Linked DNA regions of Homo sapiens. The protein of the gene in region 1 purifies or fractionates together with the protein of each later gene. This does not show direct contact. Each region holds a gene or a part of one and is shown in the gene's direction. Other genes may lie near its edges. The genes, in order: CLCN6 and SIDT2.

What was found.
Region 2: the proteins of CLCN6 (region 1) and SIDT2 fractionate together in Homo sapiens (co-fractionation; one large-scale study listed by BioGRID). This does not show direct contact.

What each region holds. Positions count from the first base shown.
Region 1 is NC_000001.11:11,809,041-11,812,852, forward strand, and holds part of CLCN6 (H(+)/Cl(-) exchange transporter 6), read left to right. Parts: intron 1-3,812. UniProt on the Homo sapiens protein: Voltage-gated channel mediating the exchange of chloride ions against protons. Functions as antiporter and contributes to the acidification of the late endosome lumen.
Region 2 is NC_000011.10:117,185,016-117,188,827, forward strand, and holds part of SIDT2 (SID1 transmembrane family member 2 precursor), read left to right. Parts: intron 1-1,114; coding exon 1,115-1,208; intron 1,209-1,568; coding exon 1,569-1,621; intron 1,622-2,362; coding exon 2,363-2,434; intron 2,435-2,612; coding exon 2,613-2,684; intron 2,685-3,692; coding exon 3,693-3,811; intron 3,812-3,812.

The sequences.
Region 1 (3,812 bases):
TAGTAGAGATAGGGTTTCACCATGTTGGCCAGGCTGGTCTCGAACTCCTGACCTCAGGTGATACTGCTTCGGTCTCCCAGAGTGCTGGGATTACAGGTATGAGCCACTATACCTGGCCATTTTCTTCTGTTTCGTAAGTATTTGTTTTCTTGTACATAGTTGAGAAGTTTGCAGGAATTAGTATAAGATACTCCATATTGTTCTGTCACCTTGCACTCCCTCACTGAACCCTGTTACATCATCCTGACTGTATCACCAGGACTGAGACTGTCTCACAGCCTTCATCCTACTTCTAGGAGCTCACCAAGGCTTCCCCATTGACACCCAGGCTCCCTCACCCCTTCTACTAAATTGTACTTACATTTGTAATGTGCTTGCCTTCAGCTGATATGCATATTCATGTAAATTTTTGTTGTTCTTGTCATTGTTTGAGACAGAGTCTCACTCTGTCGCCCAGGCTGGAATGCAGTGGTACGGTCTTGGATCACTGCGACCTCCACCCCCGCCTCTGAGTTCAAGCTGTTCTCCTACCTCAGCCTCCCAAGTAGCTGGGACTACATGCATACACCACCATGCCTGGCTAAGTTTTGTATTTTTAGTAGAGATGGGGTTTCACCATGTTGGTCAGGCTGGTCTTGAACTCCTGACCTCAGGTGATCCACCCACCTCAGCCTCCCAAAGTACTGGGATTACAAGCGTGAGCCACCACGCGTGGCCATATTCATGTACATTTCATGGGTTAATGTTCTTTTGATATTGGTCATTGATATTTCTCAACCATCTTCAAGAATGAGCTTCTTGAGAGCACTTGCTTTGTGTAAGAACAAATTCAGGCACTTAAACAGAAAAGTCTGGATTTTATTTATTCAATAAATAAATCAACTTGACACAAAAAGTATAATAAAGAGGGGAGTGAGTGGGACAGGTTAAAATAGTTGATTTAGTGGAATCTCATTTTTGTTATTTAAAACACGTGTTAAAAGCATGTGTATAAAAACGTGGGTAAGGATGTAGAAGGATATTTAGTAAGGTATTAATAGTCATATTTTAATGAATGGAGTTATAGGGTTTTCTCTACCTTGATAGTCAGTCAACTAGAAAACCCTTCTGTTGAATATCTTTCTAAAAAGTGCCCCTTCTTCCTGTCTCAGGAAGAGTTCATTGCACATATTTGACTCTTTATTTGATAAATTTAGGGTCTTACAAAATGTTAGAATCCCATTTTGACATCCATTCTCATTATAGGTGGTTTGAAAAATGGTAACTTTCTGTGAGATGTGCCATTGCAAACAGGAATGTTTTCATGCAGGTCACACAGTCTATTTATATTGTACCTTTGAATTAGAAAGAGGCACACTCAGAACGTAAGACTTAGAATTAAAGGCCTCCCCCACTGGCCATAGCAGCACCCCTAGCTCACAACCAGTTGAAGGTGGTTTTGGTGTGAACACTAAGATGCCCCTTCCTGGTTGAATTGGGGCTGGTTCAGCCCCCACCTCCCTCCCGGCCAGGTGCCATTTTGCTCGTAACCCCCTGTAACAGCCCTGCAAGACACAGATAACATTTTATTTTTTTAAAAAGTTGTTAGTCCCCTAAACCAAAGAGCAACATATACTGCAGAAATAAAAAGTTAGTCATAGCAAAGGAGAAGTAACAGTATCTGGTTTTAATAATAGCTCATATATTCCATTGGTACATATTTACAAAGGGCCAAACTCAACTAATTTATTTAAAAAAAAAAGAAGCGTGGCACAGTGGCTCACGCCTATATGCTCAGCACTTTGGGAGGCCAAGGCAGGAGGATCGCTTAAAGCCAGGAGTTCAAGACCATCCTGGGCAATAAAGTGAGACTTTGTTCCTACAAAAAAATTTGTTCAAAATTAGCAGGGGGCCGGGTGCAGTGGCCCACACCTGTTACCCCCACACTTTAGGAGGCTGAGGCAGGTGGATCACTTGAGCCCAGGACTTCATACCAGCCTGGGCAACATGGCGAGACTCCATCTCAACAACAAATACGAAAAAATTAACGAGGTGTGGTGGCTAACCTGTGGTCCCCCCTACTCAGGAGATCGAAGCAGGTGAATTGCTTGAGCCCAGGAGACGGAGGTTGCAGAGAGCTGTGATCACGCCACTGCACTCCAGCCTGGGTGACAGAGCGAGACCCTGACAAAAAAAAAAGGGATTCTGGTGTTCTAGCGTTGCGGTTGTTTCTAAATGCCCTTCTTAGCAGTTTTATTGCACTATAATTGGCATACTATTCAGTTCACCCATGTAGAGTGTACAATTCAATGGGGTTTTAAAAATTAGTATATTCACAGAGTTGTACAACCATTCCTACAGTCAATTTTTTTTTTTTTTTGAGACGGAGTTTCGCTCTTGTTGCCCAGGCAAGAGTGCAATGTTGTGATCTCAGCTCACTGCAACCTCTGCCTCCCGGGTTCAAGTGATTCTCCTGCCTCAGCCTCCCAAGTAGCTGGGATTACAGGCGTCTGCCACCACACCCGGCTAATTTTGTATTTTTAGTAGAGACGAGGCTTCTCCATGTTGGTCAGGCTGGTCTTGAACTCCTGGCCTCGGGTGATCCGCCCGCCTTGGCCTCCCAAAGTGCTGGGATTACAGACGTGAGCCACTGCGCCCAGCTAATTCCTACAGTCAATTTTAGAATATTTTCATCACCTGAGAGGAAACCCTGCACTCATTAGCAGCCACTGCCTGTTCTCCTTGCCCCTGACTCCAGGCAACCAGTGATCTCCTTTCTGTCTATTTGCCTATTCTAGATATCTAAAAACCTTCTAAATGTTTACGGAACCATATCATTATTAGATGGAACCATCAATGAAGTACTTGACCAGTAATTTCCATACATATTTTGGATGAAGGCAAGGGTATTGTTTCTCCTCTGCTCTCAGGCACCACTCGCGGAACACTGCTAACACCGATATGTGGAGGTTGTTTCCCCACTACTCAGGAGGCTGAGGTGGGAGGATGGCTTAAGCCCAGGAGTTGGAGGTTGCAGTGAACCGAGATTATGCCACTGCACTCCATGCTGGGTGACAGAGAAAGACCCCATCTCAAAAAAAAAAAGTAGTAGGTTGTCACCTGCATTTCTCAGCAGCTGGCAGTGAATTGAAGGTTCACAGGACTCCCTCCTTGAGTTTGGTTAACTTGCTAGAGCGGGTCAGAAAACACAGAAATGCTACTTACATTTGCTAGTTTATTAATAAAGGATATCATAAAGGATACAGAAGAACAGCCAGATGGAGAGATTCAAGGAACGTGGGAGGGGGCACGGAGCTTTCATGCCCTCTCCAGGCACGCTACCCTCCAGGAACCTCCAAACGGTTCAGCTGTCTGGAAGCTCTCTGAACCTTGTCATTTTGGAGTTTTATGGAAGCTTTTTTATGCAGTCATGATTGATTACATCACCAGCCCTTGGTGATCAGCTTAACCTTCAGCTTCGGTCTCCTCCCTGGAGGGATGGGTGTCCCACCCCGCTAATCCTGCCTTGGTCTTTCTGGTGACCAGCCCCTTTTCTGAAGCCATCTAAGGGCCCCCAGCCGCCACTCATCTCATTAGCAAACAAAAGATACCACGGCTCAAAAAAAAAAAAAGACAAAGTATGTTTGTGTGTGTGTGTGTGTGTGTGTGTGTGTGTGTGTGTGTGTGTGTGTATTGTTGGGGCTCAGAAAATGATACCTGGAAATATGGTGCTTTGATATGCTGAACTCTCCACCCTCACACTTTGTCTCTCCCAAAGCACAGGATGAGGCTCTTCTCTGCCGTTCCCTTATCTACCTAGAAACTGGACCTAC
Region 2 (3,812 bases), on another chromosome or scaffold:
GTGCCCAGCCAGAGGGTGCCTCTCTCTCTCTCTCTTTTTTTTTTTTTTTTCCGAGATGGAGTCTTGCTCTGTTGCCCAGGCTGGAGTGCAGTGGCGCAATCTCGGCTTACTGCAAGCTCCACCTCCCAGGTTCACGCCATTCTCCTGCCTCAGCCTACCGAGTAGCTGGGACTACAGGTGCCCGCCACCACGCCCGGCTAATTTTTTGTATTTTTAGTAGAGAAGGAGTTTCACCGTGTTAGCCAGGATGGTCTCAATCTCCTGACCTCGTGATCCACCTGCCCCGGCTCCCAAAGTGCTGAGATTACAGGCGTGAGCCACCGCGCCCGGCCAGGGTGCCTCTCTTACATGGATTATTTATTCAGCAAATATTTATGGAGCACCTCCTATATGCCAGGTGGTATGCTAAGGCAGCAGTCCTTGGTGGGGGCGGGGTCCTGTCTAGAGGAACAGGAGGCAGTTAAGAGCTGTGGTGAGCAAGGAACAGGTCACTGTGGAAATACAGGACAGAGAAAGCTTCCTAGAGGACACAGTCCCTGAGCTGTGGTTTGAGGGTTAAGTCAAGGTGGAATTTTTGAGAGGCCAGGCACGGTGGCTCACGCCTATAATCCCAGAACTTTGGGAGGCTGAGGCAGGGAAATTGCTTGAAGCCAGGAATTCAAGACCAGCCTGAGCAACATAGCGAGACCCAATCTCTATAAAAAATAAAAAAATGAGCCAGGCGTGGTGGCACACATCTGTAGTCCCAGCTACTCAGGAGGCTGAGGTGGAAGGATGGAGCCTAGGAGTTGGAGGCTGCAGTGAGCTATGATCGTGCCACTGCACTCCAGCATGGGTAACAGAGTGAGCCCGTCTCAAAAAAAAAAAAAAAAAAAAAAAAGTAGAAGAGAAAGTTCTAGCCCAGGGAGCAACATGAGCAAAAATAGGAGTGTGTCAGAGTTTGGTGTATTAGAGGAACTGCCAGTTGTTCATACTGGCTAGGCAGGGCCTTACATTTGAGGGGAGAAGGGTGAGAGATTGAGCTGGGTGGAGGAGGACATGAAGGCCTTTGGGTGCCATGATGGGAGGTGGTGGAAGGTTTTGACCTGTCCACCTTCCTGTTTCCTCCTTGAAGCTGAGGCATACGTCAGTGGGATGCTCTTTTGCCTGGGTATATTTCTCTCCTTTTACCTGCTGACCGTCCTCCTGGCCTGCTGGGAGAACTGGAGGTAAAGTGGAACTGCTGGGCCTCCCCTGGTCTGGGTGGTTTGGGCAGGTGTGTGGGGCAGATCACCTGGCAGGATCTGAGCCAGCCTAGGGTAATCTACACCATCCATAGCAGATGATGGTGGGGCTGTTAGAGTCTGTGGCCCATGAGCCTCTCTAGAAACCATCCCCTCCCCTCAACCTTCTTCCCAAGCAGGGAGATCCCATGTTGCTCCCCAGCCTGTGAGGAACCCTGGGACAAAGGGTGGAGGACAGGGTCATAGCGATGAGAGTGGAGCAGAGAGGTAGAAGGAAAGTCAGCCCCATACAGAGTGATCCTTGTCCTGTCCCATCTGGGTGGCCTGTGGGTTCTGTCCATGCAGGCAGAAGAAGAAGACCCTGCTGGTGGCCATTGACCGAGCCTGCCCAGAAAGCGGTACCTCCAGGGGGCCTGGGTGGGGCGGGCACAGTGTGCTTTGTGTTTTGGGGGGTGGTGGTGGATGGTTCCCTAGGGGGTTGGAGGAGGAAGGGCTGGGGGTTTCTGGATGTTCAGATGGGGGTAACACTCCACAGATGGGAATGAGGCTGGGATATGATGTCCATGCATCCCTAACATGCACACCTCAGAGGCTGAGGTGTTGCTTGGTTTATTCCATGTCTAGCGATGGTGTCTGCCTGCCTTGGGCAGTGTGGCCCACGGTCTCTGGGATTATTAACCTTTCCTTCTCTCTCTCTTCCACCCCTCCCTCTCTTTCTGTCCTCCCTCCTGCGTGGGACCTTCTCTCTTAGCTTCTCTCCTTGGTAAGCTCCAGGTGCTGTGGGCAGAGGAGCTGGAGTCCAGAGTAGGGGAGGGAGGGTGCAGCACAGGGCTGTCTGGAGGGCTCGTGGGCGGGCCAGTGTTGTCTTTGTTGCTGGTAACTTAGATGTGCCTGTTCTTGAACTTTCTCTCTCCTTAGGGAAGACAAAGGGTGGTGCTGTTTCCATGGGAGAGGCAGGCAGGGGGCTGGGGCGGGTGGTGGTGGCAGCAGTGGGGTGTGTTTGCCTGGATAGGTGCTGCTTCTCGTCTGCTGGCATGGCCTCCCTGTGGCTGTCTTCTCTGGACCTTTCTTTGTTCTTCTCCCTGGCTCTAGGCCTCTCTCTTCGTCCAGTGCTAACAGACCTTGACTTCTCATTGCAGGTCACCCTCGAGTCCTGGCTGATTCTTTTCCTGGCAGTTCCCCTTATGAGGGTTACAACTATGGCTCCTTTGGTACGTGTCAAAGCCAGCACCGTGCTTGCTGGGGACATGACCTTGTCTCCTTAGGCCACCACCTCCGAGGCGGTAAAGTGGGAGCCACCTCCTCCAGCCCCCACACCCTCTGCAGATGCTCAGAGCCCCTTTCCCTGCGGCCTCTCCTTCCTGCCTCACCACTGATCGTTCCCCACAGAGAATGTTTCTGGATCTACCGATGGTCTGGTTGACAGCGCTGGCACTGGGGACCTCTCTTACGGTTACCAGGGTGAGTGGGCCAGGCTGGGAGGGGCGGTGTGGTGCAGGACGGTGTTGTCTGGGTAAAATGTCACGGTGGGCGGTTGCCTCTTCTGCCAGATGCTGGAACCTGGGAAGGGCCTGCTGTCTTCCTAACCCCTCTCTTCCCTCATCCCCTCCTCCTTGGCCCCAGTTCCCTGGTAACTTTCCCTTTCCTTTGAAGGGCACGACCAGTTCAAGCGGCGCCTCCCCTCTGGCCAGATGCGGCAGCTGTGCATTGCCATGGGTAGACCTGGGGTGGGGGTAGGGCTGTTTTGCCAATCAGTGCCTGCCGGCTCCGGTTGACTGCCGGCTGTGGGGCCAGAAAGATTCTATGTGCATGGCTTCCCCATGTAATTCCAGTAATTGCCCGCTCTTGTGTCTTCTGAGATAGCAGCAGAGCACAGGCTCCTTTGGCTGGCGGGCTGGCGCCTCCGCTCTCTCCAGGCTGGACAATCTAGTTTATCGTCTGCGTTGCCAGCGCCCTCACTCCCTGGCCTGCTTGGGGAGGGCTCACAGGCATGGGGGTCACATTCTGGCCTCTGGATAAAGGAGAAATGCTCTTTCTGCACCCCAGGCCCACTGGGTCTTTAACCCAGTGGCAGCCAAGGCAGTGTCTTCTCAGAACCCACAGGGCTGGGCACCCTTGAATCAGCATGACTTGCCGAGTTCAATCCTGTTGTTTGTGTCTGCTGCCTGGGGTCTGCCTTGTGTCCTGGCCTGGGAAGCCCTAGCCCATGAGGGGTGCCAGGAACAGAGCAAAGCTAGAGCGGCCCCTGTGTGGTGGCCTCTTCTAGAGTCTACCATCATCCCCCAGGACTTAGGAGCACCTGATGTCTCCTCCCAGCTCCTGAGCCCACTTCCACCCCAACTCTGAGGCCCAGCCCACAATTTGCCTCTTCCCTACTGCCTAATAATTGTTACAATTGCCTCAGATGGGCGAGGGCCACTGTGGGTTTTGTGTCCACCGGTGCAACCCCTCCCTCCCTGCCCTTTCCAGGCCGCTCCTTTGAACCTGTAGGTACTCGGCCCCGAGTGGACTCCATGAGCTCTGTGGAGGAGGATGACTACGACACATTGACCGACATCGATTCCGACAAGAATGTCATTCGCACCAAGG